Linked DNA regions of Homo sapiens: all the other regions are reported to be linked to region 5. Evidence: microRNA targets listed by miRTarBase, many of them from high-throughput screens and not tested one by one. Region 5 holds a microRNA gene; each other region holds the end of a gene's coding sequence.

The links. The annotated mature microRNA hsa-miR-4793-5p reads ACAUCCUGCUCCACAGGGCAGAGG and lies in region 5 at 2,100-2,123, shown strand. An mRNA with a match to its seed (bases 2 to 7 or 8) in the 3' UTR can be bound and repressed. Matches are read on the target gene's strand: a 7mer-m8 pairs with bases 2 to 8, a 7mer-A1 pairs with bases 2 to 7 and ends in A, and an 8mer does both.
Region 1: miRTarBase lists RRP15 as a target of hsa-miR-4793-5p. Seed matches in the 3' UTR shown: 7mer-m8 at 3,775-3,781.
Region 2: miRTarBase lists ZNF345 as a target of hsa-miR-4793-5p. Seed matches in the 3' UTR shown: 7mer-m8 at 1,518-1,524.
Region 3: miRTarBase lists ACTC1 as a target of hsa-miR-4793-5p. Seed matches in the 3' UTR shown: 8mer at 1,513-1,520.
Region 4: the mRNA of SLC1A7 is a reported target of hsa-miR-4793-5p. Seed matches in the 3' UTR shown: 7mer-m8 at 4,692-4,698.

Annotation. Positions count from the first base shown.
Region 1 is chr1:218,329,580-218,335,668 of GRCh38, reverse strand. RRP15 (ribosomal RNA processing 15 homolog) reads right to left here. Exons shown (of 5, transcript NM_016052.4): 5 at 1-4,721. The coding sequence ends at 4,578. Among named protein-coding and RNA genes, the nearest start is that of TGFB2, 13 kb to the left of the region's middle.
Region 2 is chr19:36,877,529-36,883,204 of GRCh38, forward strand. It overlaps ZNF345 (zinc finger protein 345), which reads left to right. Exons shown (of 3, transcript NM_001242472.2): 3 at 1-2,047. The coding sequence ends at 769. Among named protein-coding and RNA genes, the nearest start is that of ZNF345, 29 kb to the left of the region's middle. RefSeq lists an enhancer at 1-1,103.
Region 3 is chr15:34,785,805-34,791,893 of GRCh38, reverse strand. It overlaps ACTC1 (actin alpha cardiac muscle 1), which reads left to right. Exons shown (of 7, transcript NM_005159.5): 6 at 599-780; 7 at 1,339-1,664. The coding sequence ends at 1,482. The region is part of intron 2 of GJD2-DT (GJD2 divergent transcript); the gene reads right to left. Among named protein-coding and RNA genes, the nearest start is that of ACTC1, 6.7 kb to the left of the region's middle.
Region 4 is chr1:53,082,627-53,088,447 of GRCh38, forward strand. SLC1A7 (solute carrier family 1 member 7) reads right to left here. Exons shown (of 11, transcript NM_006671.6): 11 at 4,557-5,601. The coding sequence ends at 5,383. It overlaps PODN (podocan), which reads left to right. Exons shown (of 11, transcript NM_153703.5): 11 at 1,887-2,868. Among named protein-coding and RNA genes, the nearest start is that of PODN, 23 kb to the left of the region's middle.
Region 5 is chr3:48,640,273-48,646,361 of GRCh38, reverse strand. It overlaps MIR4793 (microRNA 4793), which reads left to right and starts at 2,082; the gene lies at 2,082-2,168. It overlaps CELSR3 (cadherin EGF LAG seven-pass G-type receptor 3), which reads left to right. Exons shown (of 35, transcript NM_001407.3): 22 at 105-272; 23 at 494-620; 24 at 713-919; 25 at 1,153-1,327; 26 at 1,534-1,646; 27 at 2,067-2,146; 28 at 2,685-2,808; 29 at 3,279-3,395; 30 at 3,478-3,626; 31 at 3,895-4,004; 32 at 4,353-4,511; 33 at 4,838-5,038; 34 at 5,803-6,089.

The DNA of each region.
Region 1 (6,089 bases), not on the chromosome of region 5:
TCTTCATAGTTGGGATAGACCCACTAGCCACGTGTAACTTTTAAAATTTAAAGTAATTAAGTAAAATTAAAAATTTAGTTCCTCTGTATCACAAGCCACACGTGAAATGCTCAGTAGTCACCTCTGCGAGTGGCTACCATATTGAACAGCACAGACATAAATTATTTCCATCATCAAAAAAAGTCCTATTGACAGCAATGATTTAGACTTTTAGTCCCTATAATTTTAATATAAAGTATTATGCCCACTCTTCTAACATATATCCTTGCTTGCCTTACTCAGTTGAAAACCAAAGAGTGTTTAACAGAAAGCTGAATATGTGCTCCTCCCACTGAAGGAGAGGGCAAAAAGGAGGGAGAAGAAAGGTGAGCAATGTTGGAACAGGTATTTTAAGAAAGCAAATTTAAATTTAAAAGGTTTACCGCATCTCTAGGTAAAAAGTCCTAAATACTAACTCCCTGAAATTATGTTCAGTAGACTAGGTAAAAAATATTAATATTGCTCTCTAAGCTAGAAAACACTCTAAATTTAGAGAATCTAAAATTATTTAAGAACTGTTAGAATATATCTTCCATCTATATAATTATGATTATTCATTCTAACTTAGCATTTTATTAAAACATTAATCACAATTCTAAATGTCTTGTCAACCACCTCAAACATTCTACTTCTAAATCTATTCACAGATTCCCTTGACTAATATGTTTAATCAAATTTCAGAAAAGCTCGCCCACTGAAAAAATTTACCAGGACTACCAGTGCTGCAACAGTCAGTAAGATTCAAATACCCAGCTGGCCAAAATTCAGACTCCTGTTTTCTTGGGGAAGGAGTGAGAGAGCTTTTTATAGGCACGAAGTAGTTCTCTCTCCTGTTTCCAAAATTTGCTCTCACTGCCAATTCACCTCAAATAGTCTTCATACCCATAATATCTACAGGGCTTATAGCGTCTATACCATATCAGTGACATGCAGAGTGGAGATAAATGTCAATCACATTGATCCTAATAGATGAATTTGAGGGAAGAACAGAATGAATTCTGCTTTGGTCAACTGGAAAAAATGTTTCCAAATAAAAACAAAGTTAACATTATCAATAAAGTATTGACAAATTATAATATTCACAGCTCTACATAAACTTCATCAGTCAACTTTCCTTGAAGTTAAATTCCTTCAAGTTAGCACATTAATGGAGACATAGAAGGAAATGGGAGGAAAACATAAGAGGTTTCCCAGAATTTATACGTCCCTTTCTTCACCCATCTGTTTTAAAAGGCAAAAAATATTTTATTTTAAAGAAATTGGATTGCCTTCAAATAGACCTTTGAGAACCTCCTACTGAGTGACTTTAGGCTCTAAGTACTAGTGGTAACCCTCTGAACTGTTCTATCCAAAGGGTTTCCAAGGTATATTTTGCAATCAATTGAATAATGTTTGAGCAATGCAGAATTCTAGGTAATTTGAAAATAAATTCAGTGCTCCAACTCCATTATAAAAAGTGCTAAACTACTAAGATAATTCTATTTTCAGTCCTAATCAGGTATTATCATTGGCTTTCAAATTCTGATGCTTAAAAATAACAACCAATGCTAAACTATGATAAATACTAAGAACATCAACCCCAGCCATCCAAGTATCTAGAATATTCTATATATGAAATAAGGAAATAAGATAATTATTTCTATATATGAAATAAGGAAATAATACTTCCAAATTATTGGTTCCTATTTTCCATAGTTCTTTCTAACCGAAGATAAGTAACCTACTATATTATTCTAAGTAGTTACCAAAAATAAAATCCTAGGTGTTATGTTTAAATAAATGGGGAGGCAGGAATTGCAGTTTTCTTTCCCCTCGTTAAAAAATTCAAAGACAGGTGGTATGGTGGCTCACACCTGTAATCCAAGCACTTTGGGAGGCAAGAGGCGGGGGGATCCCTTGAGCTCAGGAGTTCACAACCAGCCTGGGCAACATGGGGTAACCCCATCTACATCAAAAAGACAAAAAATTAGCTGGGCATGGTGGTGCACACCTGTAGTCCTAGCTACTTGGGAGGCTGAGGTGGGAGGATAGCTGGAACCTGGGAGGTGGAGGTTGCAGTGAGCTGAGATTGCACCACTGCACTCCAGCCTGGGTGACAGTGTGAGACCGTCTCAAAAACAAACAAACAAAAACCACAAAGACAATGTAGAAAGATGAAATACACTCGGATTATTTATCTGATTGATATCAGAATAATTTAAATGTTGTAGGTAAAATATTTAGAATAGGGGTGACAGAACTACTCAAAACATTCACTTAAGATACACAATTAGTTTCTAAAATATGCACATTCCTGGTTTCATATTTATACATATGGTATTTTGCTTAATACCCAAGATGCAAAAATACGAATACATAGAAGATATCAAATCTATATGATAAAAATTGTCATATAATTTATATATACTTCATAGCCTTCTAACAGAAGTGATACATTTTTTTTTTCCTGATAGTGGCAACTCAATTTTTCTTTGGAATAAAATAATTTTGGAACGAAGGAAATCTGCAAATATTCTCGTCCTTACTTTCAATGTGAAGATCTTGTCAAATTTTTTCAAATCAAATGAGGGACTATAAAATATGTTTCAAAACATTTTAGTAAATAAGGTATTTATCCGTATCTATCATGTGAATGTACTATTCAGAAAAATTCCTGCAAAACTCTAGTATAACGCAGAAACACATTAAATTAAATTAAGTGTAATCTTAGTTCTGGGGAGAAAAATGTGTTTAAGTTGCTGCACTTTTTTTTTTTTTTTTTCAAAATTGTGTGTTTGTTAAGTCATATTGAAATATGTATCTGTATTAAGTTATAGCAGGATATTTAGTTCTCCTGTATTACTACTGAGGTATATTTGTTCACATTTATTTATACTGAAAGACACTAATGTTCAAAAGTTAGAATAAATACAAAAATGCATCTTGTACTTTGCTGTTTTAACCACTTGATACCTTAGGTGTACATCTTCCTTTATGATAACAAATACCAGGCCACAGACTGATTCAGCTTTAGTCATATAATACTGTAACACTCAAATGGGTTTCAAAATATAAACATCTCTGCTCTTGGATAGTTTTTTTGGGGGGGATTATCCTTCAATACATAACAGATGCAAGTATGTGCAACTGGGTGGTAGGAGGGAATTATTTTTATTATGAAAAGGGATGGATCCTTTTCAAAAAGGGACAGATCATATTTATTAAAAATAATTCCCTTAAAAACTTTAGATCTTGGGCCACATTTCACAAAAATTTTGGAATGATATTAAACAGTCTTTCCTCTTTTTAACAGCTGGATACTAAAAGTCACCCAATTTAATAGCCTTTAAGGCAATAATATGGAATCAAGTCTCAAATTGGATGCAATATTCTGCTGCAGATTACTTGTTGTCTAAGTGCATCAATTCACTGGTTGGGCAGTCCATAAAAAAGAATTTAAGCTAACTCAAATATTTGGGAGGAAAAAAAAGAAGAGAGAGACTAAAGCATGTCAAACTTGCTTCCTGAGAAATTGTCTCATTGCATAAGTTAAGCATGAGAATTTCCACCTCTGTAAATCTCTCATGCAAAAATAGGCTAACACCTAAAATAAATCTGTCATTATTTATATTATTTAATAAATGAAAGGAAATAAAATAAAAGTTGAAATCTGGGCCGGGCGCAGTGGCTCACGCCTGTAATCCCAGCACTTTGGGAGGCCGAGGCGGGTGGATCACGAGGTCAGGAGATTGAGACCATCCTGGCTAACATGGTGAAACCCCGTCTCTACTAAAAATACAAAAACAAAAAATTAGCTGGGCGTGGTGGCAGGCACCTGTAGTCCCAGCTACTTGAGAGGTTGAGGTGGGAGAATGGCGTGAACCTGGGAGGCGGTGCTTGCAGTGAGCCGAGATCACGCCACTGCATTCCATCCGGGGCCACAGAGCAAGACTCCGTCTCAAAAAAAAAAAAAAAAAAAAAAAAAAAAAAAAAAAAAAAGTTGAAATCTGTTGTTTCTTAAATCATATCTTCCAGATTACCTAAAACTAAAATCACGACCCAAAATCTGAAAAACTATAATTTTAAATTTTATTATATAGGTTTTCTCAATAACTTCCCAACACAAAGCAAAAAACACCAACCATTCCCAAAAACTACAGATACATAGTTGAGTCTATAAGTTAGAAGGCAGAAAAATATTAACTTCAAAGAGTTTAATGATGAATTAGTACTGTATTTCTGAAAACATTGGTGATACTGAAATAATACACCAATAGACATGACCAATATGATCCTGGCAAAATGCACATCTCGCTGGTCAAGCAGAAATATATCCTTTTACAAATGTTCTGAGGAACAATGCTTAAAATTATACAAGGGTTTAAAATATAATTTTAATGAAGTATATATAAAGTGTACATGAAAAGGGGAAATATGAAATCTGGCAAAAGTCTTTTGGCTTTCTTACAAATGGTATCCTTATAATTCCCCAACTATCAGAGGATGACATATTTTTCTAGAAAAAATAAAACGACTGCAATTGTATTTCCTATGATGCTTTATGTATCAGAGTCACTTGCAGATTCTGGTCTGCTGTCATCTGGCCCATCACTTTCCTTGTCCCAGTCTTTCATAGATGCTCCCATCATGAAATCATCACGTAGGATCGTCCAACCTGGGCCTTCTTCTGATTTCACTTCAGTCTAAGGAAAATTATAGAATCAAAATATTCAAAAGTCAATTCCATCATAAGGAAACAAAAAGGTACAAGCTACAAAACAAACTTTTCAATGCTTAGTTTTTAAAATAGGGGTAAAACCAAGAGAAATTATAAATCGACTTACTTTATACACTATGATTATACTATGATTATATATGTACAAATGTATAATAAAGAACTAAACATTAATAAAATATTGTATGGACTCCATAAAAGAAACATGAAAGCAAAATAAAAAAATTTTTTTGAAGTGAGGGAAAAAATATAAATCTAGGTTTGGTATTAATTTTTTAAGCACTTCTGACAACAAAAAACAGACTTACAATACTATTTAACCTTCAGTGATAATTTACTAGAAAATTTTGGGCAAATTATTTCACCGCAACTGACAATTTAACAAAGGCATTTAACCCAAAGTAAATTAAAAGTGGGAAAAAGAAACTACATTGGTACTATGCTAGGTTTTTTAAGATGCCATCTCACTTAATGTTTTTATAAAAATTTGAACCAAATGTTCTTTATTTAGGTTATGAGCTCACTGCCTGACCCAATCATGTAATCAAAGACTAATCGTATGTTGAAATTATAAATAAATGAAGCAGGCAATAAACATAATAGGTAGTCAATTCGTTTCATTTAGTCACAGGATTTATGTGGTACTAATTACAGCCTTTCATTTCATGGTACAACAGTACCACCTTGTGGTATCAATTAAGTAATACAATAGATGCAGCACTCAAAATTTTTCATTCCTTCCACAAATATTTATTGAGAATTAGCTGTGTATCAAGCACTATGTTAGAAACATAGTGATGAACAAAACGAAGTTCCTGTTTTCAGGGGGCTAACAGTCTATGCATATCTATTTATGTCAATCACAGAAATACAAAATTTTGTAAAAACCTAAGGTACAAGAACCCATGACATTTGGTTAGAAAACAGTGTTATCATTATGCTGTCATTAACTACATAAAAACAGTTTAAAATATAATATATATTAAAGATATTTGCTGGGTTACAAGAGATTACTTACCTAACTGCTATAGCTTCCCTTTATTTAAAAAAAGATAGCCCTGAAACATTCATTCCATTTAAAAAAAAAAAAATTGACCACTATTACAAGCAAATAGGAAAACTGTCCTATTGGCTCACTCTTGTCTTCTTGAGGTCAAAATATCAAGCAGAGCTTGTGCTTAAATATAACTTGAAGACTGAATGGGATATAAATGTAAGCAAAGATTTCAGAACTGACTTCGTATATCAAACATCAGCACACTTTTTACTATAATTTACCCAACATACAGAAATAAATAAAAAACATCTGTGCTATTTAAAAACCAACATAAAACAG
Region 2 (5,676 bases), not on the chromosome of region 5:
AGCATGTGGAATGGCCTTTAGCAGTGGTTCGGCTCTTACTCGGCATCAGAGAATTCATACCGGTGAGAAACCATATATATGTAATGAATGTGGTAAGGCCTTTAGTTTTGGATCAGCCCTTACTCGACATCAAAGAATTCATACTGGTGAGAAACCTTATGTATGTAAGGAATGTGGGAAGGCTTTTAATAGTGGCTCAGATCTCACTCAGCATCAGAGAATTCACACTGGTGAGAAACCCTATGAGTGTAAGGAGTGTGAGAAAGCCTTTAGAAGTGGTTCAAAACTTATTCAGCATCAAAGAATGCATACTGGAGAGAAACCTTATGAATGTAAGGAATGTGGGAAGACCTTTAGTAGTGGTTCAGACCTTACTCAACATCACAGAATTCATACTGGTGAGAAACCCTATGAATGTAAGGAATGTGGGAAGGCCTTTGGTAGTGGCTCAAAACTTATCCAACACCAGCTAATCCATACTGGTGAAAGACCCTATGAATGTAAAGAATGTGGAAAGTCCTTTAGTAGTGGTTCAGCTCTTAATCGGCACCAGAGAATACACACTGGTGAGAAACCCTATGAATGTAAGGAGTGTGGGAAGGCTTTTTATAGTGGCTCAAGCCTTACTCAGCATCAGAGAATTCATACAGGTGAGAAACTTTATGAATGTAAGAACTGTGGGAAGGCTTATGGGAGGGATTCAGAGTTTCAGCAACATAAGAAAAGTCATAATGGTAAGAAACTCTGCGAATTGGAAACTATAAATTGAAATTATGTGCTGAAGGAAGGACTCTAAACATATGACTTAAGAAAATTCATAGTGGTGAAAATCTCTACAAATAGAACTAAGGTACAAATGCCTTACTTATGCTTCACAGGTTAGTCAGTCTAAGAATATTTATACAGGAAAAAAATCACCCCAAATAAAATAAATATTTGAAGATCCTTATCTATATTCATTCCTTCATTACTTTTGGAAAATTCTTACTTGTGAATGTTAAAAATGAAAAAAAAATCATTTATTATATTTTGCCTCAACTTTAAACATTGGAAAACTCATTTCTGGGTTAATCCTACTATATTTTTTCAATGGTCTTTTTTTTTTGTATTATACAGAATTACTGATTCATTGAAAAATTATTTTATTTATTGCAAGTCTAAATTTATCCTTTTTTTCTTTCCTGATTATCCTAACACCATTTATTCAATAACCTTGTCCATTTTCATATTTTTTTTATTGACTATTTGATGGTAAGTTACATTTTTATTCACATAAAGCTTGGATATCAGGTCAGTGTTTTTTTGTTTTTGTTTTTGTTTTTGTTTTTTTGAGATGGAGTCTCACTGTCACCAGGCTGGAGTGCAGTGGTGCAATCTCGGTTCACTGCAACCTCCACCTCCCGAGTTCAAGTGATTTTCCTGCCTCAGCTCCCCAGTAGCTGGGACTACAGGCGCCCGCCACCACGCCCAGCTAATTTTTTGTATTTTCATTAGAGATGGGGTTTCACCACGTTGGCCAGGATGGTCTCGATCTCTTGACCTCGTGATCCATCTGCCTCGGCCTCCCAACGTGCTGGAATTACAGGCATGAGCCACCATGCCTGGCCCAGTGTTTGTTTTTTAAATTTATATATATGTATCTATGTCTCATCCTGTTTATGGTCAATAACTGTTACTTTTAAGTATCCTTTAATACCTGTACCTTTTGTTTTAGAAGATTGTTTACTTTCCTTTTATAAAATTATACTCTCCATTTTAGCAAAACAGCTTTCCCTCATCATAATGTAGATAAAAAGAAAAAAAGGATATGGTTACCTGTAATCTTACCAATCATAGATAATCACTGTCAAACTTTTGGAGCAAATCCTTTAATACTATCTCTCATTGTTTTGGAAACAAGGTGTGATTATGCTATACTATAACCAGCCCTTAATATTTTTTGTCTGTAAATATGTTGTTACCATTTTATTGGCTTTATAGTATTCACCTGTCTTTATCAAACCCCAATTTTGTCAAATATTAAAAATTTTGCCATTATAAACACTTACCTTGATGGCCCCTTTTCAGTGTGTCTGATTTATTTATTTATTGTTCATTTCAGAGATAATGTATCAATTGCTTTTGCATATAAAAGATTTTTACATTACAGATAAAGCCGGCCTTTCCTTTGAGCAGCATTCCTGGCCTCAGTTCCTTTCCAATGTTAACCAATTTACTTATTCTTCCAGATCCTTTTATATGCATCTGTAACATACCTATGGTAATGTGGGTAGAATCAATACCTCAGAGCCTTATTGTGTGGATTCTATAATTGTGCCTATCACATAATAAATGCTTAGTGAATGTTACCCATCACTATTATCTTCTCAAGCTTCATCTTTATTATTTCTAGAAAAACTTTTAGCCATGATCCATACCTTACTCAACAACAAAGACCTCATAATGGAGAAAGACATTCATTTAAATGAATGTAGGGAAAATTTGATTGACATTCTTTCCTTGTTGAATAAGAATATTTGCTGCCAGGCACAGTGGCTCACACCTGTAATTTCAGCACTTTGGGAGGCCAAGGTGGGTGGATCACTTGAGGCCAGGAGCCTAGCCAACATGGTGAAACCCCATCTCTATTAAAAATACAAAAATTAGCCAGGCATGGTGGCGTGTGCCTGTAGTTCCAGCTACTCGGGAGTCTGAGGCATAAGGATTGCTTGAACCTGTGGAGGTTGCAGTGAACCAAGATTGCACCACTGAACTCCAACCTGGGTGACAGAGCAAGGCTCTGTCTCAGAACAAAATAAAAATAAATAAATAAAAAATTGTCCTACAGAAAAAATAATAAGATTATAAAGTGTGAGAAGACAAATACACTATAAAATTTGTACCAGGGTAGAAGTAAAAAAACTAGCAGTTTTCTCCATTGAAATCCAAATATTAATTCAGTACTCATCTGCATGATTCTTTGCTTAAAAATAAAATGCAGGCAGGCACAGTAACTCTTGCCTGAAATCTCAGCACTTTGGGAGGCTGAGGCAGGAGGATTGCTGGAAGCCTGGAGTTTGAGACCAGCCTGGGTAACATAGCAAGCCCCCATCTCTACAATAAAAGTTTTAAAAATGAGCCAGGCATGGTGGCCTCCAGCTACCAGAGGCTGAGGTGGGAGGATCAGTTGAGCCCAGGAATTCAAGGCCTCAGTGCACTATTATTGTGCCACTGCACTCCAGCCTGGAAAACAGAATAAGATCCTGTCTCTAAAAATAAATGAGTAAATTAACTAAAATCAAATACATTATTTTTTAAATAAGTGGCACTGAATAGATTACATAGCAAAACCTGTGAGGACCTGTAATATACAGAGGAAATTTTATAGCTCTAAATTCATTCATTTGTTAGAATGTTAAAGAAATTATAAATAAAGAAACCAAGCATATAACCCAAGAAGCTGGAGAAAGAATAACTACAACAAAAACCCTAAGGATAATGGGAGGGAAAAATAATTTTAGAATAAAAAAAGCTAGATCAATCACAACCTAATGTTTTGAAAACAAAAATAGTAGCAGTTCTCATAAATAAAGGTATATGAACATGAATGCAAAAGCGACATTACTCTAGAGACTTTACAGATTACAGGTTGAGCATGCTTAATTTGAAAATTCAATATCTGAAATGCTCCAAATTCCAAAACTTTTTGAGCTCAACATTATGCTCAAAGATAATTTCAGACTTCTGGATTAAGTATGCTCACCTGGTAAATATAATGCAAATATTCCAAAATCCAAAACACTTCTGGTCCCAAGCATTTTGAGGGATACTCAGCTTATGTTTATTACGATTACATGTAACCTTTTAATAATTATTTTGAAAATTGAACATTTTAGTAAAAGGATTTTAATCACCAGAACTGACTCAAAGTGGCATAGAAATGGGTATTATATAAGGGATATAAAGCAAAAACTATATCTAGGAAGGCTGGGGAAAAAAACCCTGTAGCCAAAGTCTCTTTTATACCCCCCAGTCAGGTCCCTTGAGTGAATATTCTGGCATTCAATCACATTTTGCATTGGAAAGAGCAAAAGATGAAAATATATCAGCATTAGTATATTTTATGTCTTTTTAATTTGAGGTAATTAGATTTTTTAATTTTTAAAAAGAATGGAATAGGAATCATTAAAAACAGACTAAAGTAACATGAAATCTTAAGATGCTACATATAAAATACATCACTTTAAATATGAAACTAATTTTTAAAGTCCTGCAGATTAATCTGTTGGAGATATATATTGAAACCCACTTTCAGAGACATTAAAATGCGGGGTAAAAAGTGCATTTTAGAACTGATAAACTACTTCATCAATGATTTTAATGGTTCCTTTTCTTTAGATTTTCAAATTCGTTGATATTGGCAAACAGAATTGGCTTTCAGTTTTCAGTCTCTGTATATATATTTGTATTTCTACTCATAGTTTTATTTTTAAACCACTTTATTCCTCTAAATTGATTTGAAGGAGTCCCATTCATTTTACTTGTTTTTTTTTTAAAAAAAACCTTATCTGGGTTTTCTTCATGCTTTTGACTATTTTTGTTTGCTTTTTCTATTTCAAAAATATATTTCACTATTTTCTTTTTATTTGTGTGTATTTCTGTTGAGTACATGTGCTTGGTTAATATATTTTCAGTCTCTTTTAAATTGGAAGCATTTAAGGCTACAAGATTTCCTTTGAATATTGCTGTATCTGGGGCCCATGGTTTTTTTTTCTTCTTGAGATGGAGTCTCGCTCTGTCACCAGGCTGGAGTGCAGTGGCGTGATCTCGGCTCACTGCAACCTCCGCCTCCCAGGTTCAAGTGATTCTCCTGCCTCAGCCTCCTGAGTAGCTGGGACTACAGGCATGCGCCACCACGCCTGGCTAATTTTTGTATTTTTTAGTAGAGACGGGGTTTTACCATGTTGGCCAGGATGGTCTCGATCTCTTGACCTCGTGATCCGCCCGCCTCGGCCTCCCAAAGTGCTGGGATTACAGGCGTGAGCCACTGCACCTGGCCCCATAGTTTTTTAAAAATTAACTTCTAGATAATTATTATTTTAATCTTGATTTCTCTTTGATTCACTAGTTACCTAGGTGTCTGTATGTTTGTGTGTGTTTCTAAATTTTCAAAAACCTGTGAAAAAAATTTAGCATATGAACTTATAATGTGTGTGATCTGTGAAACTTCATTAAAAAGTTAAAACATTAATTTATTATTTGTGGCCAAATATACGTTAGGTTTTTAATACATTTTATAGATATATGATGTGAAATAATATATATTCTCTATAAAACACAAAGTTCTACTTAATTATATTAAGCTTCGTGATTATATTATTTAAATATCCTCTGATTATTTTGTTTAATTCTGAAAAGTGGGCACAAAACGCCCAGCTATATTGTTTCAAGGTCTTCTGTTAATATAGGGGTTTTACTTTTTATGTTTGGTTGCTGTATTTTTCACTGTGATGTTGAATTCCAATTTCTCTAATATTGAAAATTCTGCTTTGGCCAGTAGAGCTGCACTAGGTCTGTTGTGTCAGCTTGTTCTAGGTATATATCCTTATAAACACCATATAGTTAGTGTTTTATTTTTAACCCAATTTGTTTTTGTATTTTAATTGGAGAACACCATATATCTATAGGCAGGCTTAC
Region 3 (6,089 bases), not on the chromosome of region 5:
GACACACTGAGTTCATCTCAAAATAAAGGATGACACAGAGTAGTAACTGAATAGCACGTATCTGCAGGAAAAGGGCTAGTTCACAAGAGCTGACTTATTCCCGTAAGTTTCACTACCAAGTAGCTGGACTTTCCAAGTTCCTCATCATTAAATGCAATAACATTCCTACTCATATTAATAACTGGGCACTTATATGTCAACAAATATCCTTCCTAAGCAATGCTTTCCATAAGGAACTTTGTCAGGATCTGATTTAAGTCCATAAACAAAAATTACATTCATTTTAGTTTAAACGTGTATCTTTTCCTTTTCCAATACATCTTCATACATCTGAGAGTTTCAGGAGGTGTTTACTTGAAACAGGTGCTAAGCACAGTTGCTCCTTTCTTGGCATTGTATTGTGGATTAACTGTGAGGCACCCATTCCACCCTGCAGTGTGTCTTATAGGGGAACATATGTTTCAGAGACAAATGGTGACAGCTCCCCCACACAAAGAAGTTCTGTTCTCTTCCCTCTACCTTGACCTGAATGCACTGTGATGTGTGTGTGTGTGTGTGTGTGTGTGTGTGTGTGTGTGTGTGTGTGACTCGTTCCCAGGTATGGAATCTGCTGGCATCCATGAAACAACTTACAATAGCATCATGAAGTGTGACATTGATATCCGCAAGGACCTGTATGCCAACAATGTCTTATCTGGAGGCACCACTATGTACCCTGGTATTGCTGATCGTATGCAGAAGGAAATCACTGCTCTGGCTCCTAGCACCATGAAGATTAAGGTAAAGAACTTTTGTGAGTGGGAGATCCGAGGCAAGTCTTGGTATTCTAAGCAGAACTACGTTCCAAATTCCTTTTCCCTCATACTCAGTTTCTTGTCTCCTACAAACTTTACCTGTTAGCTTTTCTACCACTTTTTCTGATTTTCTTAGCACTTTTCCCAAGATAGGTAACTTCCAAAATGCTTTTAAGCAGTGAATAAAAATAAATCTTTGACAAAAAAAAGACACACACACACGCAACAAAATCTTTGAATACATTTTTAAAGCTCCCAACTTTTGGGCTAGGCTCCACTACACATTTAGCTTGTTGCCAAATTACACTCTAGGTAAGTGGAGAAATTCCATTTTAATAATAGAATATATCTTTAATAATATAAATGATGAAATAGAGGTGAGTTCATATAACTTGATTGGCCACATTATTTCGTGGTATGACATATCCCACATTATAGCGAATTAATATCTAATGGTTTTTTTCTGTGAATCCTCCCAATGTGTTATTTGCTCCCTTGCTTGGAACTTCAGAGTTCACTGGAAGTTTTTGTTTTCTTTCTGCAGATTATTGCTCCCCCTGAGCGTAAATACTCTGTCTGGATTGGGGGCTCCATCCTGGCCTCTCTGTCCACCTTCCAGCAAATGTGGATTAGCAAGCAAGAGTACGATGAGGCAGGCCCATCCATTGTCCACCGCAAATGCTTCTAAGATGCCTTCTCTCTCCATCTACCTTCCAGTCAGGATGACGGTATTATGCTTCTTGGAGTCTTCCAAACCACCTTCCCTCATCTTTCATCAATCATTGTACAGTTTGTTTACACACGTGCAATTTGTTTGTGCTTCTAATATTTATTGCTTTATAAATAAACCAGACCAGGACTTGCAACCTATAAAAGCCTCTCGTTTGTTTTTGGGGTAGGCGTGGGGTGGGGCAGGTGTTTGCTTTGACACCCTGAGCATTGTCAAAGTTCAGTACCACAAGGTTCATCCAGATGAATTAATATGACAGTTAGCTGGGAGTTATAATGCTAACTTTTGATTTCATATTTTGAGACAGAATCATGAATATATTTCATACCTGAAAAGCAGATTAAGGTTTAGTTCCATATAAGTAAGAAATGAAATTGAATAAGATAGTTCTCTAGAATTAGTTGCTGCAGATGACACTGAAGATTATTTTAACATATGTTCCAGTTGTTTTTGTAACCTTGCAGAAAATACACATATATTGATAATGAGAAAGTCAAAGATTATTTTAAATGAATTGGCTTAACTTTTCAATTCTTTGAACTCTTCAATTTTCTTCCTGGGGGCTATGAAAGAAACATGAAGGTTAGCTGACAGTTGGGCCAGCCACATCCCATTGCAAATACCCTCTAAACATATCAAGACCATTGTGTGTGTGCAAAACAAATGTGAGGAAGCAGGAGCCAAACACTTCTGCCTGATCAGTGACTAACTTGCGAGACAGAAGCCTTCAATCTCTTCGTTTCTTTGAAATCTTGAGATCTTGGGTTGAGTGAACTGAAGGCTGCGAGGTCCTGAGGGAGCAAGGGGAGGCGAGAGCCACAGTGTTTGCTTTGCTCTGTGCAGAGCTCTCTGCAAAGTATGGTGGGAAGGCTGCTAGGGGCAGCGTTGAAAAGAATTGAATGTGTTCCATCCTCGAGGAGTTCACACACCTACACATAATCCCCCAGTGCGTGTGGCCTGGAGGCTTTAAGGAGATGTATGTGGGTCTGGGTCTTAGAGAATGGTCAGGAATTAGGGAGGTGAGAAGAGCAGAGAGGACATCTCAGCAGAAGGAAGTGTGGCAGAAGCCAGGATACAAGACATGGGGCAGGCTGGTAGGTGCTGATGAATTTTAGAAAATCCACTGGGAAAGGTAGATTTCAACTAGATTGCAGAAGCCTTACAGATTTTTGTTTTCAAATTAATTGCCAGTGAACTGTTAGCATTCACAGAAGTGTTTGAATAGACTTAATTGAATTTTATTGATGAGGATTCAAGACACAGAGATTAAGCAACTGGTGCAATGTTATAAACTTTATTTGTGGAATGTGCTAGACAGGAACTCAGATTTTCTGACACCTACTCTGATGGTGTCTCTAAAATAATCTTTCTAACTTTATAGTTTATCAAGGGTAACCCCATTCTATCACATGCCTTTTGAGAATTTGGGTTCAATATTTGGAGTACTCTGGACTCATCAGACATCTTTAATAAATTGTAATACATTGCCACTGTCATTCAAGGTCCTATGTGTGTCTTTTTGCCTATTCATACCAAAAATATCTTTTGATCCCTGACTCTGGGTCGGGCATAGTATTAAGGGCAGGGGACACAAAGATGTATGAGAGCACATTTTCTGTGAATAAAAAGCTCAGAGTTTAGAGTTCTGTATGTAGCATATTCAAATGGAAGGCCTTCTATGCAATAAAGGCTAAATAATACATCAACTTGGTGGCATTTTATTTAGATAAGGTGCAAACATTATTGTACATATGCCCCCCGCCCCCACCACCCCATTGTATCCTATAGCACAGTTGAACTGGTTTAAAAGCCATGCATGGGGAGGTATGATTTCACTAGTTTTTGTGTCTCTTTCTTTTCCTCTGTACAATTGAGTGCATAAATATTATGAATTGTATCCTCTGAACACAGTATTAATGCTTTAACTGTAGATGATTGGCTGGGGTATCACCTCTGGTTCTTTCCATCTGTGATTAGAAATGGAGAGGACATTTTTATTTCTATGTAAAAGTAGAAGCTTTAAGAATCAGCTTCTGATATTTATATCAGAAGAGGTAAGCACCCAGATTCTTGTTGAATTCTGAGGTCTTCTCATCTTTGCTTGATTATAGGGTATAAAGTATTAGAACAATTGAATCTTAAAAATTGTGCTTAAGGAAGGTACTAAGACAAAAATGTTTGCTTAAGGTAATCTTCATATGTATACAATAACTGAGACATGGATAGTGCCTACGTCTTTGGTTAAAGTGCAATAAACAAAGAACTATATAAATTATATTTCTTCTTAATTTATAATAAAGTATTGTTTGTAGTTTCTAATACCTCCAAACACCACTTCTTCATTTATTTTGACCAAACAATGGCCATTATGTAGATGTGTTTAAATATTTAGGAGAGTACAGTGGAGAGAAAAGAAATATTACTGAAGAAAATAAAATATTTAGAGGGGTAGGGCTGACTTATTGTATCCAGAGATACAATGTGAACAATGTGACTGGGTCTCCACCTTTCCTTCCAGTTCTCCCATAGAATTTATTACAGTCTGAATTGTGTTTCCTCAAAACTCATATGAAGCCCTATCTCCCAATATGACTGTATTTGCAGACAAGACCTTTAAGGAAGTAATGAAGGTTAAATGAAGTCATAAGTGTGAGGCCCTAATCCAATAAGACTGGTGTTCTTCTAAGAGGGAGAAGAGACACCAGGAGTACAAGCACAGAGGAAAAGCCATGTGAGGGCAGAGCCAGAAGGCGACCCATCTGTAAGCTGAGGAAAGAAGCCTGCTGACACCTTGATCTTAGACATCCAGCCTCCAGAACTGTGAGAAGTAAATGTCTGTTGTTTAAGCCACTGATATGGTTTGGCTGTGTCCTCACCCAAATCTCATCTTGAATTGTAGTTCCCATAATCCCCACATGTCGTGGAGGGACCCAGTGAGAGGTAATTGAATCATGGGGGCGGTTACCCTCATGCTGTTCTCATGATTGATAATGAGTGAGTGCTCATGAGATCTGATAGCTTCATAAGGGGCTTTTCCCCGCTTTTCTTGGCACTTCTCCTTCCGGCCACCATGTGGAGAAGGACATGTTTGCTTCCACTTCCACCACGATTGTAAGTTTCCTGAGGCCTCCCCAGCCGTGCTGAACTGTGAGTCAATTAAACCTCTTTCCTTTATAAATTGCCCAGTCTCAGGTATGTCTTTATTAGCAGCATGAAAACAGACTAATACAGCCACCCAAGTCTATGGTATTCTGTTATGGCAGCCTTGGCAGACTAATATAGGATTTCTCCACCATCCTATAGGTAATATAGGATTTACCAACTTAGCAGCCTCTGAGACAAAAGAATACCTTCCCATATAGTACTGGCAGAAGTCCCAGGAAAGTGTCTGAGCCTGGTCAGGCTTAGGAACCAAGTCATACCATTCTTACTGCAGGGGCTGAGCAATACTATTTAGCAGGGGAGAGGTGATTCTCCAAAGGAAGAGGACAAAATAGTGCAAACACCATACCCAGTGAGCTAGAGGAGGAAAAAATTCTGGTGGCTTGTAGGGGAAGAATTGATTGTTGGATGGCTCCCACCTTCCAGCTCAGGAGTTTTGATTTGACAGGTCCTGAGAAGGACTTGAGAAGAGCAATGACTTCATGCAAACAAATCTAGGCAGCAAGACAGAGAGCCTTTGGATAATATATTCCAGTATGGCCTCAGGACCCAGGGACCCAGTGATCTCTATATGATCAGACTATCTGGATTTTTAAAAGGAAATAATAAGTCAGATTCATTTTATGGTTAATATGATATAAATGCTATAAATATATACCAGGAACTAATAGGGAGGGAAAAAATATAGGTCTTTTAGGCCTAAAACAGCAAAAGTTGTCTATTCACCTTAAGGTCTTCCAGGCTCATTATACAAGAAATCTCTCTTCCAGGCAGAGCTTCTCTGGCTGTTGCTATGGTAACTAAACTCATGGTAGGAAGACATCCAAAACAAAGCTCCTGGAGAGGTTGCAAAAGTACACCTCTGGTCACTGATGAACTTGATGTTTGAAGACGTTCTTTGAAGTTCATTCATTAGCCCTGGGTGCAGCAGATGCAAGAAAGGTTGACTCGGAGGATAAAGAGCTTCAGTTCAACTATAGTTCTCTGAGTTCTTGTGGTTCTGGGCCCCCTCCCCTCCCTGGTTGAGGCTGGAAGTGAAGGGGAGCTGGGTCAGCTGAGAGTTAAGTAGGGGTGGCCTGCATGTCCTTCAGCATCATTGTCTGCTTATTTTCCTGCATTGTTTTACTGTAACTTCCATGGAAGTCATGACTAAAGAGGGGAGACAGAAAGAAAACTACCCCAAGGGAAGGCTGAAGTAAAGCAGAATTAAAACAGGGCTTAAATAGTAGATAAGAAGCAAACTCTAGAGTCAATTGTAAGCAAGGAATTGGGTCAACAGGGTAAGCGTTTAACACAGGAAGATGACTTGGGGAACTTTGGAACTATTACTGCAAGTGGCCTGGAGGCATCATGGAGGTCAGGATATGAAAAAACAGGCATCATGTAGGAAGTTTAAGAGCAGC
Region 4 (5,821 bases), not on the chromosome of region 5:
GGGCAGAGGGCATTTGCACATGTATGTAACACAGGCACCTACATGTGCACATGCACACAAATGCACACGGATGCACCAACACACATACATTCATGTGCACACACGTCTCAACATGTACACACATCCACAAACCATGCACAGGCAGAACACACACACCACACACATGCACACAGACACACATACATGCTTGTACCCCATGACACATTTGCATGCCTAGACTATGTACATACGTGCACACACGTGTGTACATGCATGTGAGTACATGCACACAAAACACCCATGCGTACCCACGTATACGGGCCCTTACATGCACACCTGCATGCACACATGTACACATGATGCGTGCATGCACAGGCCTGTCTAGAAGTGGGGACTTGGCTGTGTCAGTGCTGCTGAGGGGCTGAGGGAACTGAGCACTGAGGGAGCTGACCACTGCGGAGCGCCCACTGGATTTTTCCACCTGGAGGCTGTCTGTGACTTTGTAGCAGCAGGGGAAGCTGGGATGAGAAGAGCAGCTGGAAAGGAAGTGGGTCCAGGCACTGCAGACCAGCCTTTTGAGAAGTTTGGCTGTGAGAGATGAGAGAGGGCAGAGGTGGGAATGGAGTGTGAAGTTCAGGAAACGCTCATTTTCTGAGCCTCACAGGAAGCAAAGGCCTCTCGAGGGGAGCCCTGTGTGAGGGGCTCTGGCAAGATGCCCCGACACACACATGCATCTTCCACACGCACCCTCTTAAAGGAGGGGGCTGGCTTGGGTGCTGGTGGGAAGAGGCTGGCCTGGAGGGGGAGTCACCGATGTAGGAAAGAGCTGGCTTTGAGGGCCCCTGTGGGAATGGTAGAAGTTGCTGGCTTTAGCAGGAGGAACAAAGGGCAGGGTGGCTGCTGTCACAGGCAGATTGGTGGCTTGGTGGCCAGATGTGAAGCCATGTCAGCCGGATCCCTCCAGTCTTCCGTTTTCTCTGTGCAGCAGGGAGGTTCTCCGCAGACCAAAGGTATGGAGAAAATGGACAGGTGGATCCACCCACAGCTGAGTTTTTCAGCCAAGAGTTCAGGACAGGAGGGCAAGGAACAAGGGAGTGTGTTGGCCGGAGGCTGGCTGCAGGCATGGGTCCTGGGGTCAGGTTGGGTAGGGAAGGAGGTGCAGATAGGAGGGCTGGTGGGCAGGGACTCAGAGAAAGACATTGGAGAGGAGCCAGGAGCGGCTGTGTGGTCGGAGGAGAGAGGAGAGCTGGTGAGGAGTGAGCCAGGCTGGGGGTCACAGGGCCAGGACGTAGCCGTGGGAGGGGCTGCCGGGCCACTGTTGAGTGTTGACTGAAGTAGGGCCTGGGACGAAGAGGAACCAGAGGGGGCTGTTGAGGGCCACTTGGGTGGGTGACAGAGGGAGCTGGGAGAAGGGCGCAAGTTGATGGTGAGAGAAGAGTGTGCACAGAGTTGGGTATCCGCAAGTGTGGAGGGGCTGGCAAGAGGCTGAGCTTGGGGGTCACCTTCCCCAGCTCCCAGGGCCCGGGAGTATGAAGGTAGAGCTGGTTCTCTGAGGTGTTGTCCTCACACAGAGTTGGGGTGGGTGACAGGGTGACTGGCCATCCAGTGGGGACACCACAGCCCTCATGAGGGGCTGTGGAGTCCTGGGGTGGGTGAGAATCTGCCCCATCTCAGGTCAGTTGAGTGGGGCTCTGGGAGAAGCCCTGGGGAGTGGCTGGTGGGACCCAAAGGCCTTCTGGCACCCCGCTGGCTCTGGGCTCCCAGGGCCAACGCTCCCTCCCTACTCATAGTAGCCTGGCCTTTCCAGAGCCCCCTCCAGCAGGGCTCCCCACAGCAGGTCCCCTCAGGCTGCTTGGGCTGGTGGGTCTGCCCTGAGCTGGCCCCTGACTCTCTTACATGTTCCACAGGACGATGGACCGCCGGACTCTTTTCTGCAGCACACGCCTGTGTGCTGTGAGCCCCCCACTCTGCCGTGCTCACACAGACACACCCAGCTGCACACATGAGGCATCCCACATGACACGGGCTGACACAGTCTCATATCCCCACCCCTTCCCACGGCGTGTCCCACGGCCAGACACATGCACACACATCACACCCTCAAACACCCAGCTCAGCCACACACAACTACCCTCCAAACCACCACAGTCTCTGTCACACCCCCACTACCGCTGCCACGCCCTCTGAATCATGCAGGGAAGGGTCTGCCCCTGCCCTGGCACACACAGGCACCCATTCCCTCCCCCTGCTGACATGTGTATGCGTATGCATACACACCACACACACACACATGCACAAGTCATGTGCGAACAGCCCTCCAAAGCCTATGCCACAGACAGCTCTTGCCCCAGCCAGAATCAGCCATAGCAGCTCGCCGTCTGCCCTGTCCATCTGTCCGTCCGTTCCCTGGAGAAGACACAAGGGTATCCATGCTCTGTGGCCAGGTGCCTGCCACCCTCTGGAACTCACAAAAGCTGGCTTTTATTCCTTTCCCATCCTATGGGGACAGGAGCCTTCAGGACTGCTGGCCTGGCCTGGCCCACCCTGCTCCTCCAGGTGCTGGGCAGTCACTCTGCTAAGAGTCCCTCCCTGCCACGCCCTGGCAGGACACAGGCACTTTTCCAATGGGCAAGCCCAGTGGAGGCAGGATGGGAGAGCCCCCTGGGTGCTGCTGGGGCCTTGGGGCAGGAGTGAAGCAGAGGTGATGGGGCTGGGCTGAGCCAGGGAGGAAGGACCCAGCTGCACCTAGGAGACACCTTTGTTCTTCAGGCCTGTGGGGGAAGTTCCGGGTGCCTTTATTTTTTATTCTTTTCTAAGGAAAAAAATGATAAAAATCTCAAAGCTGATTTTTCTTGTTATAGAAAAACTAATATAAAAGCATTATCCCTATCCCTGCAGCCTGTGGCTATGTCTGTGCTTGCTTCCTGCCAGGTGCTGGCCTGGTGCCGGGTGGAGGGGGCAGGATACAAGCCCCTCAGCGCCCTGGCCAGAACAGCAGACATCAGTGGAAAGTCCAGTTCTCGGGGCCCGCAGAGTAGCTGCACAGGCAGGCATCCTGGGAGAACAGGGCATAGCCTCAGGCGAGGGGGCCTGAGGTGTGTGCAGATGGCCCACTCGGGAATAGTAGGTGAGGCCTGAACCAGCACACGCGGCCTGTGAGCTTGCTGTGCATTCCCAGAGGTGGAGCATCCAAGCAAAGGACCTCATGGGCTTTGGGCCTGTTAAGGGCTCACCTGGAGGGTCATGGGTCACCTTTGCACTGACAGGGTGTTACTAGTGGGTTCTAGAGGAGAGCAGGGGACTGGAGGCAGGCCTGGGAGCTGGAGCAGAGCCGACTTGGGGGCCCAGGTCTCCGCAGACCTTTCCAGGAAAGAGCTAACAGATGCACCCAGTGTGCTTCCCACCCCAGTGGGAGAGCTGCCACCGGGAGGTGGTACCCAGCTCTGAGCTAAGAAGAGCCTCTGATGGGCAGAGCTGCCCCACTGTGGGTTGAGATGCTCGGGAAGTGGTGACCTCCCTGCTGCTGGAGGTGTGTAAGGATGCTCCTGCCAAGTCCACTAAAGAGCAGACTCCTGCCTTGTGCTGGGACAGACTCGATTGCTCAAGGGGTCTTAGAGATGTGACACCTAGAAGGGGCTGCTAAGCTTGTCTGCATGAAGGTGGGATGACCGATTGCATGACATCTGACCTCTCCCAGGTGAGGAGGCCTCAGGGAAGGAAGGATGCTCTCGTGGAGGCCTGCAGCCCCCAGCCCTGCAGTGGGAGGAGGTGTCCTGGGGTCGTGCTCTTCCCAGACTCCTCACACTCCACCCCTGGGAGGAGGGTGGAAGGAGTTCAGGAATGGGGCAGTGGGAGCAGGTGCCCTCTTGACGCTGAGTGACCTGGGGGAGGCCTGTCCCCTCCCTGGGCCTTAGTGTCTTCAAGGGCATCATGGTGCAAGCCCCTCCAGACCCCAGAGCTGTATCTTCTCCCCAAGGCATATCTGGAACAGGCTGTGTTGCCAGGGCCCTTCTGTGTGCCCTGCAGGCCTCCTGGAGGCAGCCTGGGGTGTGAGAATGAGGGAGACCATCTGGAAATGTCCCTGGGCACGCCCCTGTCTAAAGCAAAGCATTCACCACGGGGAGCCAGACTGGGAAGGAAATCTGTTTCTTCTTTGGGGACTGATCTCAAGGCCCTGCCTGCAGAGCAGAGCCTAGACCATGGCAGAGAGGTCTGTCCACACTGGACGATGCCCAGCTGCCCTGTGGTTATTGAGACAGGCTCCTGGGTAGGCTAGCTTATACTCTGTCTTCTGCATGTGACAGCTCAGATAGGACTGTCCTTACTGCAGCCACCAGGACAGGCTTCTCTGCACTCTGGCTGCCCATACAGGCCTGTCCACACACTGGCAGCCTAGACAGACCTGTCTACACTCCAGCCAAATGGACAAGCCTGTTAGATTCTGGCCACCTGCATAGGCCCGCCCATATCCTGGCTGCCCAGACAGGCCCGTCTGCACTCTGGCCGCCTGTATTAATTAGCCCAGTAGCTAATATCATATTTGCTGGCTAGCATAAGGTGTTGAAGCCCACAAGAAGTGAAAAACAAAATACCTTTATTTAGTTAACACTGAATTTGCAAACACAGAAAGGAATAGAAAACCTGACTCCACTTGGACGCACAGGCCTTTGGGGAGTTCTGACACCAGGGCCCCATCGGCAGCTCCACCAGAGCATCCTGGCTGCACCTCCTTCCCGGAGTCCTGGCTTGCCTACCTATTCCATGGGAGGTTGGCCTGGATGTGTCAAGGGGGCCTTTCAGCTCTAGTAAAGACATCTGTCTCCACATCCAAGGAGCTTTGCAAAAGACACGTGGCAGGACAGGAGACTGGACGCACTGTGGCCTGGGGAAGGCAGCGGGGCTTGGCCCTGGGCTGCTCCCCTTGGGGAGAACTGTGTGGCTGAGGCCACCTGTTATGGGGTGGGGCCTGGGCCTGGACACAGCTGCAGGCTGCCCTGTCCTCCAAGAGGAGAGGCGGGGCTTGAAAGATTTGAGTTAGTGTCTTGACCTTAACGTGAGACCTTGGACAAGTGTTTTCAGCTCTCAGAGCCTCAAGTCTGTCATCCAGAAAGTGGGGCCGGATAACCCCTGCCTGCCGCCCTCACCGGGCTCACACCGGGGAAACTGTCACAGCGGGGCCTCAGGCAATGCCGGGCCCATCACTCCCTAGATGGGGCTCCCCCATGCAGCCTTTCCCTTCTCTGAGATACATTTTCCGTCAAGCGGGGTTAATTCCAGCCTCTCAAGGGTGAGAAGAATGTGTGATCCTGGCCCCTGCCGGCTGCTCAGGAGGGTTGGAGAGTCGAGTTCCTGCCTCAGGACCCTGCCCCTGGAGGCCTCGCCTGCCCCTGCAGCTCCGCAGGCTCAGACATTGGTCTCCAGCTCACTGATCTGGATGGTGCAGTGGTTCAGACTCGCAGCGGGCAGCTCCTCATCCTGCTCCACTTGAACGGGGACGTGGTGGGGGCAGGTGGGGCCCAGGGTGAGCTCGGAGGCCTCGGCTACACTCTTCACACAGCCATTCTGCTGGGCTGCCACGATCTCCTGGAGGCTCACTGGCTTGGTCTCGCAGGGCAGCAGTTTCTGGTGAAGGGAAACAGGTCTTTGTAGCAGCAGGAGGGACCAAGGTTAGATACGAGGGAGGACTGAGGGCCAGTGGGGCAGAATGAGCTCAGGGCTAGGAACCACAAGATGGATTTTCCTGCAGACACGCTGTGTGACCTCGGCAGGTCACGGCCTCCCTGGGCTCCTGTTCCCAAGCGTCCTGCCTCCCACTGGAGCTGGCTTAGTAGAGGAGGGGACT
Region 5 (6,089 bases):
AGACCCTGGGTCAGCCCTGGCGAGTGGCATGAAGACGGGGTGAGGCAAGCAGGCTGAGCATGGGGAGGTCAGCAGTGCGTAAGCCCAGATGGGTGTCTCCCCAGGCTTCCTCAGAACCCCGTCATGAACTCCCCGGTGGTCAGCGTGGCTGTGTTCCACGGACGCAACTTCCTAAGGGGAATCCTGGAGTCCCCCATCAGCCTAGAGTTTCGCCTGCTACAGACAGCGAATCGGAGCAAGGCGATCTGTGTGCAGTGGGACCCACCTGGCCTGTGAGGACCCCCATTCTGGAAACCCTTGGTCCCGTTAGCCCTTGGGAGGCCAACTAATAGTCCCAGCCTTCCCCTGGGGCCCCCACTAGTGCTGTTGTGCAACCCGGACCATGAGGAATGCTGTACCCCAACTCCAGGCACCCTCAGCCCTTCCCATGATCTCTCACAAACCCCTGCCTGACACTGGGTCACAGTTGTGTCTAACTGCCCTGTGGCTGCAGGGCGGAGCAGCATGGTGTGTGGACAGCACGGGACTGCGAGCTGGTGCACAGGAATGGGTCCCACGCACGGTGTCGCTGCAGCCGGACAGGGACCTTTGGGGTCCTCATGGATGCCTCTCCCCGTGAGGTGGGGCTGTGTTCAGTGTCCCAAGGAAGTGGGGGGTCAAAGGGACACGGGGATTCTGCCCAACAACCCATCAACCATCCCTGTCTCTGTAGAGGCTGGAGGGCGACCTGGAGCTGCTGGCTGTGTTCACCCACGTGGTCGTGGCTGTGTCTGTGGCTGCGCTGGTGCTGACTGCAGCCATCCTGCTGAGCCTGCGCAGCCTCAAGTCCAATGTGCGTGGGATCCATGCCAATGTGGCAGCCGCCCTGGGGGTGGCAGAGCTCCTCTTCCTGCTGGGGATTCACAGGACCCACAATCAGGTGCAGGATCAGGGCCAGGGAACTTGTGTCCTGATGACCCTACTGGCCCAGGAGGCCTGGGGCCAAAACTCAGGGTCAGAGGTCAGGGATGCTCAGGTTGGGGCCAGGGTTTTCAGCAGGATGCTGGGGTAAGATATTGTGGTTTAGGGGTGAGAGGTGGGAAGCAGATGCCTGGGGTAGGGGTCAGAGGTGGGTGAGGCAGGAGAGGTCCTGACACGCCCCCCTGCCCTCAGCTGGTGTGCACTGCAGTCGCCATCCTCCTGCACTACTTCTTCCTCAGCACCTTCGCGTGGCTCTTCGTGCAGGGGCTGCACCTCTACCGCATGCAGGTTGAGCCACGCAACGTGGACCGCGGCGCCATGCGCTTCTACCATGCCCTGGGCTGGGGCGTCCCTGCTGTGCTGCTGGGTGAGGGCTGTGACCCCCAACCTCCAACCATCACATGGCCTGACCCCTGACCCTGTCCCCACTCCTGCTCATGACCCCCAACCTCAAACCCCAAGCCATCTATTCATGGGGTTGCTGCTCTGCCCTCACCCATGCTTTCTCCCATACATGGGCTGGTCAGCAGCTCTGGAACACACACCCTCAGTCCTACCCTTTCTCTTCCCAAGGCCTTGCTGTGGGCCTGGACCCTGAGGGCTATGGGAACCCTGACTTCTGCTGGATCTCAGTCCACGAGCCCCTCATCTGGAGCTTTGCTGGCCCTGTTGTCCTGGTCATAGTGGTGAGTGCCCTGGACTTGGTGCCCCCTCTGTACTTCCCTCCCTCATTGGGGGAGGAGGTGCAGTGGACTCAGCTGAGGGCGGTCAGGTGGCATTCTGCAGGCTTCCTGGGCTCGGCCTTCATTTTTTCTGTCCTCTGGTCAGTAGCCACCCCCATTCAACTGGCATGGAGATGGGGGCGCGGGGTCAGAGATTCAGTTGCCTGTCCCTGCCTCTGTCTCTGCTTCTCTCTCTCAGTCCCTCTCTGGTTCCCAATTTCTTTTTCTGTGATGCTAAGCTCCTTTGGTGTGTGTGTATATGTGTGAATTTCTCACTGGTTCTGCCTCTCTCCGTGAATCTTAGTCTCTCTCTGTCTCTCATTGCCTCTCTCTCTCTCTCTCTCTCTGCCCTGCCCGGCCCCACATGTCTGGCCGTGGGTCCAGATGAACGGGACCATGTTTCTCCTCGCTGCCCGCACATCCTGCTCCACAGGGCAGAGGGAGGCCAAGAAGACCTCTGCACTGTGAGTTGGCTGGCTGGAGGAAGGGGGCTTCTCAGGATGGCAGGTCCCTCCTGGGTGGGGTCTGGGGCCCCCAGATCTTCCCTGGTGCAGGTTGGGCTCCAAGTTCTAGATGAAGGAATGAAGTCACACCTGCCCTGACCTGTGGTCCCTCTCTGGCGCCCTCGCTATACTGTAGCCCCACATGTGCTTCTGCCCTGCTGTCTCTCCTTGTCCTCTGGGTCCCCCCAGAGTCTCCCATGGCCTGGGTGGCTCACTTTGCCCCCTGCCCTGTGTGTTCCCACCTGTCTTCCGTGCCCTCCCTTGTGGCTCCCATACCCCTGTGTTTTCCCCACGTGTCCTCATGGCTCTTTGACTGCTCTCCTGTTTCTTTGTGGGACCTCCCATCTCCCCCAGTGTCCTCCAGAGACCTCCATGTTCCCGTGTGAGTTCCTTTTTTTCACGTTTCGTGTGTGGCCCCTGTGTGTCCTCCCGTGTTCCCTGCATGAGTCCTACATGAGCCTTGCATGTCCTCCTGTGTCTTCCCATGTCCCCACAGCAGGACCCTTCGCAGCTCCTTCCTGCTGCTTCTGCTGGTCAGTGCCTCCTGGCTCTTTGGGCTCCTGGCAGTCAACCACAGCATCCTAGCCTTCCACTACCTCCATGCTGGACTCTGCGGCCTCCAGGTGACTCTGGTGCCCCTCCCTTGCCCCAGAACCAGGTGGGCCTTCAGTAGGCTGGGGCCATCCCTAGGCAGACGTTGACCCTAGGCCTGGAGCTGACTCTTACTGGATAACTTTGCCAGGCTGGGTACTACCCCAGACCAGACACTGGCCCTAGCTGCTGCCCCCAGGCCTGGAGCTGACTCTAACTTAGGCACTGATCCCAGACTGAGTGCTGATCTTGGATCGACCTTCACCAACACCAAGGCTCCCGACCCCTTGCTGATCCACACCGACCTTACAGACTCCAGCCACTCCTGCTGCTCCATCCTCTCCCCTGCTGACCTTCCCCAACTCCCTTACTGAGTCCCGCATGGGCTCCTCACTGACCCACACTAGCCTACAGTGACTGACCCCATTGCTGACCCACAGTGACTTATACTGGTCCCTGATTGATCCCTGCCGACTCTGCTTTGACCCTCGCTGACCCACAGGGCCTGGCGGTGCTGCTGCTCTTCTGTGTCCTAAATGCAGATGCTCGGGCTGCCTGGATGCCAGCCTGTCTGGGCAGGAAGGCAGCGCCTGAGGAGGCAAGGCCAGCACCTGGGCTGGTGAGTCGGGATGGGGGCCCTGAGAAGCCAGAGTTTTAGGCTGCTTCAGGGTTAGCTCACACTCTGTCCCTACCACCCCCAGGGACCTGGGGCCTACAACAACACGGCTCTCTTTGAGGAGAGTGGCCTCATCCGCATCACTCTGGGCGCCTCCACCGTCTCCTCTGTGAGCAGTGCCCGCTCCGGCCGGACCCAGGACCAGGACAGCCAGCGGGGCCGCAGCTACCTCAGGTGAGAGGAAGAGCCTCCTTGTGAGGGAACACTCAGCTTAGTCCAGCCCCACCTTACCAGGGCTTGGCTGACCAGGTCCTAGGGCGGGTGGCTCCACCCATCTTGGCCATCTGGGGCCCTGCTTCTGCCTCTGCCCTAAATGCTTCCCACCACACACACCCAGGGATGCCATTCCACCCGCAGCTGGCTGTGCACTCAAAGACACTCCAGCCTCCAAGGCACCCCATCACATCCCTCTTTCATGGTGGGGGGGCTCCTGCTTTTCCAGGGACAATGTCCTGGTTCGACATGGCTCAGCCGCTGACCACACTGACCACAGCCTCCAGGCTCATGCTGGCCCCACTGACCTGGACGTGGCCATGTTCCATCGAGATGCTGGTGGAGTTGGGGCCTGGGGCAGGGAGGAGGGAGGCAGAGGATCTCTCCCCATCCCCTTTTCTTCTACCCCATACTGGGAGCAGTGGCTGACTGGGGTGGGACGATCTCCCCCAGGGTCCCTGCCTCAGGAGGCACCTACCTCTCCAGCCCTGGTTCTCCCAGTCCACTCCTGATTCGTCCTTCCCTCTGATAAGTCCCAGCCCTTCTGCTGCTACCTCCACTTCAAGCCCCGGTTCCTGTCCCCAACCCTAACCCCCTTGCCGTACCCACCTCTAGACCCTCAACTCCAAATTCCCTTATCTCCAAGTCCCTTACCTCTGAAAGTACTTCTGACTTTCCCAACTCCAGGCGCAGACTCCGACTCTGACAGTGACCTGTCCTTGGAGGAGGAGAGGAGTCTCTCCATTCCATCTTCAGAAAGCGAGGACAATGGCCGGACGCGGGGGCGCTTCCAACGGCCACTCTGCCGAGCAGCCCAGAGTGAGAGGCTCCTCACCCACCCCAAAGGTGCCAGGCGCCCTCTGACCCCTTGGGTGACCAAGGGATGCCCCATTTGTTATCCCTCCAGCTCCCCATCTTTCCTGCGGTTGGGGTTCATCCTGGTCTTTCTGACCCCTCAGTCATCAGGTTCCCCAACTTTTAGTCTCTGTCCACCTCCAGTTAAGGGGAGGGAGCTCACCAGTCACCCCCACCCATTGATCTCTGAGGAGATACCCTCCTGTTCCCACCTCTGCTCAATGAGAACAGCCAGGGTTTCAAGGGTCATTAGGGTCAGGGGTCATGAGTCACTGGGATCAACCCAGAAGCTCCTGTAACCTGACCTGGCTCCACAGATGTGGATGGCAATGACCTCCTGTCCTACTGGCCAGCCCTGGGGGAGTGCGAGGCAGCCCCCTGTGCTCTGCAGACTTGGGGCTCTGAAAGGCGCCTGGGGCTGGACACCAGCAAGGATGCAGCTAACAACAACCAGCCAGACCCGGCCCTGACCAGTGGGGATGAGACTTCTCTGGGCCGGGCCCAGCGCCAGAGGAAAGGTACAGTCCCTGAGCCCTGGCCCACACCGCAGACACGCTGGGGGCTGCTCATGCCCTGAGCCAAGGGATTGCAGCTTCCTCATCCCAAACTGAGAGCTCTTCTTACTCTGACCTAGGGCGCTTCTGCTTCTCTAGCCTGCTTCACGGTCCTCAGGGACTGCTCCTGTCCTGACCTGGGAATTCTCTGTCCCCCTCTACCCTGGCCAGCACCACAGGGGGACCACAGGCGACCACTCCTGCCCCAGCCCATCTGTTTTTCAGAGACCCTAGGAGCTGCTTCCCCCTGCCCCCCACCCAGATCCCAGAGCCCGTGCTCTGATCTGGAAGATTTCTGCCCCCTACTCTGCTTTTATGGGGACCCGGAGAAGAGGTTTCTGCCCTCACCCTTGCATCACAGGGACCTGGGGACTGCTCCTGTCCAACCCGGGGGGTTCCTGCATTTCAGCCAGGCCTGCATTGTCAGGACCTGAGGGCTGCCCCTCTTCTGACCTCAGGGAGTTTGCCCCATCCCCTGCACCATGAGACCTGCCCGCCCTCCCCCTGCCCCGGGACCACAACTGGAAGATGACTGCCCTTCCACTCTGACCCCTGTCCTGCTGCCTCTCTGGGACCACCAGGGTTGCCTCTGCTGCTCCCCAAGGGGTTCCTGCTCCCATCCCTGTGTTGGAAGGATCCCAAGGGCTGCCACACCCCTAGACTCAGCAATTCCTGCCTGCCCTCCCCCTCCCACACAAACCCTGCCCCCCATTTTCTTCCTCTCACAGGCATCCTGAAGAACCGGTTGCAATACCCACTGGTGCCACAGACCCGAGGTGCCCCTGAGCTGTCCTGGTGCCGTGCAGCCACCTTGGGCCACCGTGCTGTGCCAGCTGCCTCTTACGGTCGCATCTATGCTGGCGGGGGCACGGGCAGCCTTTCACAGCCAGCCAGCCGCTACTCTTCTAGAGAACAGCTGGACCTGCTCCTCCGGCGGCAACTGAGCCGTGAGCGACTAGAGGAAGCCCCTGCCCCTGTTCTACGTCCCCTGAGCCGGCCAGGGTCCCAGGAATGC